2 separate regions of the Homo sapiens genome follow, and region 1 is linked to region 2. The links come from fine-mapping of genetic effects on gene expression. Tissue or cell type: uterus. Region 2 holds a variant in brackets; the other region holds the start of a gene. All regions are shown on one strand. Distances are from middle to middle.

Evidence for each region. PIP is the estimated chance that this variant, and not a neighbour inherited with it, causes the effect.
Region 1: SLURP2 starts here. The variant in region 2 is the best candidate, but not a certain one, in a credible set for the expression of SLURP2 in uterus (GTEx, PIP 0.69).

What each region holds. Positions count from the first base shown.
Region 1 is chr8:142,768,657-142,771,333 of GRCh38, forward strand. SLURP2 (secreted LY6/PLAUR domain containing 2) reads right to left here and starts at 1,172. Exons shown (of 3, transcript NM_177458.3): 1 at 1,099-1,172. The coding sequence starts at 1,150. The region is part of intron 3 of LYNX1-SLURP2 (LYNX1-SLURP2 readthrough); the gene reads right to left. It overlaps LYNX1 (Ly6/neurotoxin 1), which reads right to left. Exons shown (of 4, transcript NM_177477.4): 4 at 2,546-2,677.
Region 2 is chr8:142,793,021-142,795,697 of GRCh38, forward strand. No RefSeq gene overlaps it. Among named protein-coding and RNA genes, the nearest start is that of LY6D, 7.8 kb to the left of the region's middle. The variant C/A (reference allele first, on the strand shown) is at 1,285.

The DNA.
Region 1 (2,677 bases), 24 kb before region 2:
CTGATGGTTACAAAGGCCTTCTCCAGGTTAAGTCGAGTCCCCAGGCCCCTGTGTGTCTCGGACCTTCAGCACAGAGCTGGTCTGCCCTCATGACCCTGGGGCAGTCCTCAGGGTCAGCGGCTCAGCCTCTCATAGGCCAGGAGGGTGCCCCTGGGGATGGAGACTGGAGGGATGTAAGAGACACCTGAGCCAGCGCCAGGGACTCACCGACGCTCCACCCCCTGCTCATTCAGGGCCTGGGAGGCAGGGGCTGCCCAGGTCGTTCAACCCACAGCCAGGGACGCAGAGGCTTGGCCCCTGGGGGGCTGGGCTGCTTGGGCTTGGAGGTGCAGGCCACCGGCAGATCAAGGGGCCAGCTGGTTTTGTTGAGGCCTCAGGGTGGGGGTGGAGATGCCCTGCCAAGAGAAGACGTTCAGGCTCTGCTGGGGGATGCCAAGGCCAGGTGTGCACAGCTGTGCTTGAGGGGTCATCCCCTTGGAGCCCTCAGGAAGGCCCTGGGCCAAGGGATCTGAAGCTGGGGGGACAGGGCCAGCCGTAGCAGACGTGGGCACTGCGGGGGTCGAGGGTTGGGGGATGGGGAGGGGGTAAAATCACCCAGGAAAGCGGGGAGCAGAGGAGAGGACCCGGGAGCAGGAACTGGGGATGGGAGAGCAGAGGGACTTGGTTTTCCCAGGCAAGAGGGAAGAGGGAGTCCCGGGAGGGTGGCCCCAGGAGACAAACCAGCTGGGAGGCCAGGCCCAAGAGGGCTGGAGGGGGGCACATTCAGAGTGTGTGTGTGCACGTGCACGAAGGTGCGTGTGTGAGGGGTGTCGCGGTGGACTGGAGAGGTCTGGGGGCTGGGCAGAGGAAGAGGGGGGTTTGAGCCAAGGGCTGTGCATCCTGAGAAGTGTGGGGGCCAGTGTCGGGGGCTGGGGCTGAGCTGGATGGACCTGCAGGATCGCAGGAGGCTTTCGGAGGAAAGCTGCACCTGGTAGATGGTGGGGGGACAGGAATGGGTTCTCCCGAGGTGGGCAGTCACAGCCCAGGGCTGGAGGGACGGTGGTTGGGCTAGAGTGATGGGGGCCTTGAGCAGGAGGTGGCCCCAGCCCCTGGACTCACCCAGCTGCAGGCTCAGGACGGCGGCCAGCAGGAGCCCAGTGCCGAGCTGCATGTTCTCCTGGTGAGGTCGGGCTGTCGGCGCCCTGGCCGGCTGCCTTATACCTGCTGGCACCCCGCCCTGGCCCTCGCCCGCTCAGCAGACTCTGCGGGTCTGAGTCACCAGGCAGCCGGGCTCAGTCAAGGAGCCGGGCTGGGGTCCGGGCGGTAGGGGCCAACCTGGCCCCAAAGCTCGCTGGTTAGGCCTCTGAGCGGGCCGGTGTCATCTCATGAGCCATCTCTCCTTGTCCATAAAGTAGGGATAGCCCTGGCTGACAGGATTGAGGATCTGATAAAATGGCCTGGCACCAGGCAAGCAATGGCCACAGGCCACTCTCCCTCAGTGGCTGGGAAGGAAGGCCTGGCACCAGGCAGGTGACGGCCACAGGCCGGTCTCCCTCAGAGGCTGGGAAGGAAGGTCTGGTGGGAAGGAGGGTCTTGGGCACCAGCCACCAGCCCACCCCTTACGCCTCAAAATGCACATGAAGCTCAGGGCTGGGTGGAAGCCACAGGCCTTCATCTGTACTCCCACCCTAGAATGAGTTCCATGACAAGACCTCCTCCAAATAAGCCAGAGCTTTCCCATCCTGACCCCCGCAGGGCTGGGAGAACACAGAGGGAGCATGGTTGTGAGCCACCTCTCTGTCATCCGTACAGGGAATCATGGCCATTGTCACACTGTGACTAACGCCCCAGGATCTGTGCAGAGGAGTAGGGGGGACAGAAAGGCCCTTGGTACTAAAAGGGACCCCAAGGATAAGGTAAGAGCCCAGAAGGGACACCCTGGAGAGCGGGAGCCATCAGCTGTTCCTCCAAAGGCTGGCCAGGGGCTGGGGCCCCAAAGGGCCTGTCCGTAGCCAGTCAGCCATGCCAACCCGGGGACCCCTATGTGTCTCTCGGGCTGCCCACATGGCTTCTGTCTACCCCTCCGTTTCGGGGGCTCCTTATGGCTGGGAGGTGGGCCCAGGAGGAGGGAGATCCTGAAAGAGGGGCTGGCAGATCCAGGCCCTCCTTCCTGGGGCAGTCGAGAAGCTGGGGTCAGGAACCAGGTAGGCAGAGAGGTCAGAGATGGTGGGATGGGGTCCTGGGGGAGTTCCCGCCTCCCTTACCCCGCACACCCAGACTTCCTCAGGGGTTTGTATGCCCCTCAGGGGTGCTGGGTGGGGGGTGGCCTCTCTCCCACGGAACTGGGAGCAACTCTCAGCAAGCCCCAGGAGCCCTGCCTGTCTCCCTCCCTGTGCCTGGCTCCGAGGACAGGTCAGGCCTAGAGGCCAGAAAAGTCCAGGACCTGGACCGGGTAGGGTAGACAGGAAAGTGGCTGCATGCAGCCTGGAGTGCCAGCCCAGCCAGGCTGGAAAGGTGAGGCCCGAGCTCAGGCCGAGGCAGTGGGGCTGGAGAGAAGCGCAGACAATGCGAATCTGTTGATTTATTTACGGCTCGGTGAGACGACGCTGGACGCTGGTTAGGGTAAGGGTTAGGGCAAGCATTAGCAGCAGGGGCATGGCCCTGGGAAGCACCTGGACCCCAGAACATAAGACAGGAG
Region 2 (2,677 bases):
TCTTACTCTGCCTGTGGTCCTCCCTTGCCCTGTAGGAGTTCCTGTCCCACCAAAGGACTCCCCACCATGAGTCAGTGCAGACCAGCTCCCTCACGGGAAGTCCTAGCAAGACCTCGGACCAGCCTTCCGCGCTTCTCAGGCAAGGGTTACTTGGTGGTCTGCAGTGGCTTTGTCCCTCCAGGGCCTGTCCCCAACTCAGTGTTCCCACCAGTGGGCACTGCCCTTATACCACTTATGTGTCCTCTAGGAGTTAGTTAGAATGATGTCTCTCTGTCTCTCTCCCCGCTCTTCCTTTTCTATTCACCCACACCTGCCCCTGACAAAACAGTAATTCTCAAAGGCCAAGGAGTCCATCCTGGCAAGGGTTCCGAGACCCTTGGGTCTGCAGCAGGTCATAGCAGCTTTGGGGCTGGCAACACCCAGACCATAGACACATGCTTTTTAAAGGTTACAGGATAACTTGGGGGGACATCATGGATCCTAGCCCTTAGGAATGAAAGAACTATCTTCCATGCACTGCATGCCCTGTCTTCAGTCTGTTGCTGGCACCAGCACCTCCACAGGGCCATGTGAGTTGTCACCACATGACTTGGGTGGAGGAGGCTTGTCTTTGCTCCTCCTGGGATCAGGTGACTGCTGAGCTTTGAGGCTGGAGCGTCCCAGCATGGCTGCTCCCTGCTCAGCTTGGATGTTGGGTCCTGGGCAGGGCCTGGGGTGGGCTGTCCCTGCAGGAGGTGTGCGTGTTGCTGCAGTCCTCACTGGGTACCGGGCCAGGCCAGGCTTCCAGGGGAGGGAAGAGAGGCCCATGCTGGGCCCTGCCAGGGAACTCACCAGGACCCCAGGGGCTTAAGGGATCAAGAGGGTGTTACATAAGAAGGGAATCGGGTGGGTCCTTGGGGAGCAGGAGATGCCGAATGGAAGGAGCATGGAGGCCCAGGAGCCCCTGAGCCCATGCAGCTGTGCCCGGGACAGAGGAGCAACTCTGACGGGCAGCCCAGGTCACAAGGAGCCAGGTCGGCACTGAAGGGACCTGAGAAAGCCCCACCCACCTTCATTTCAGAGCTGGCACTGCTGACAGCAGGGTCTAACCACAATGCTGGCTCTGGGTTCCACTGTCCCGCACATCTCAGCCTGAGCCCTGCTGAGCCTGGTGGCCTCTCCTCCCTGGACCCAGACCTCCCTCGGGCATTTCAGGGGTAACTCATTCCAACCCATTCAGCCCCACCTCTCCCCCAAACTGCTCCTCCTCAAACCCGCAGAGGCCATGCAAGGGCCCCCAGAGGC[C/A]TACATCTCCACCCTCCCTCTGCCTCTCCCTTGGCCCCAGTCTGGCCCTGCCTCCTCCTGGCTGGGGGCTGTGCCTGCCTCTGCCTGCACCGCCCCGCCCTGCAGTCCTCACTCCTTACCCTGCACTTGGGTTGGATGCAGTCCCTCCCCTGGACCCCCTCAGTGCTCTCCCACACTCTCAGCCTCCCTGTCCTGCCTCTGGGCCCTGACTGGGCGGTCTGTGTGCTCTGTCCATCTCGGGGGGCTGGGTACCCCCTTCTGTCTCGGTGCCCGGGTCTCCTCTCAGGCCATCAAGCCCTGTCCTACCTCCGGGCCTTTGCACATTGACCTCATTGTCAGAGACACTGGTGCCTTCCAGAGGGCCCCAGCCACGGCCCCCGAGGCCTGTCCCTCCTACCCTCCTGCCTCCCTCACACCTTGGCCAGGCGCTGCAGCCCACATGAGCTTGTCACTTTGCCTGCTGTGCCCACTCTTACCTGCCCACTCGAGGGCAGGGACAGTCTGTCACTGTGGCATCTGAGAGCCATGATGCCTGGTGTGCAGGAGATGCCCTCCAGAGCTGCTGACTTAGTGATGTGGAAGCCGGAGGGCCCAGGGGTGCAGCTGAGCACTCACCAACCCAGGAGTGGGGCTCCCTGTGCCCCAGCTCTTCCCCTGTGGCGAGGGGCTGTGGTCAGCTTTGTGTGGAAACAGCCTCCTTGCCATGCCTGGCTTCTGGACACAGAGGCTCCTGCAGGCAGAGGCTGTGGGCTGCTGGGTGGCATCAGATGCGGTTTCTGTTGGGACTTGCAAGGGTGGGGCCTGCCCTGAAGGGTGAGCCCCTCCTGAGTCAGCCTGCCTGGGAAAGCTCCTCGGGCAGGAGTCAGGATTCCCACCTTCCTTGAGAAAAGAAAACTCCAACTTTACTCTCAGGGTGGCTGAGAGCACCTGACCGCACACCAACCTCCCCGTGGATCCCTAGAGCCCAGCAGGCTGGGGCCTGTGGAAAGCTATGCTGGGGAGCCCGTGGGAATCCTGACAGCCTGGCTCCCAGGGGGTTCACTCAGGTCCCTTCAACCCACTCGGCCCTCTACTGGCCTCCAGACAGCTCAAGGTGCGATAACGGGGGAGAAGCCCGCTGAGGCAGCAGGAGCTTCTGGAGCTTTTCCCGCTGACCCGAGCTCCCTGCTCCTGGGTGCTTGGGAGCACAGCGCTCCCTGCAGAGTGCTTCTTTAGCACGGGCACGGGCTCGGGAGACCAGTGGCAGGCTGGGTGGGGGCAGCGGCCCCGGGAGGCTGAGAGGAAGCACTGGGCAGGCCGAGGGCGCTGCTGGGAGGCCTTCTTCCTTCTGGAGCAGGAGTCCAGCGGCAGGCAGCAGCCCCGGACCAGGGCGGCTGTGGGAACATCCTGCCTG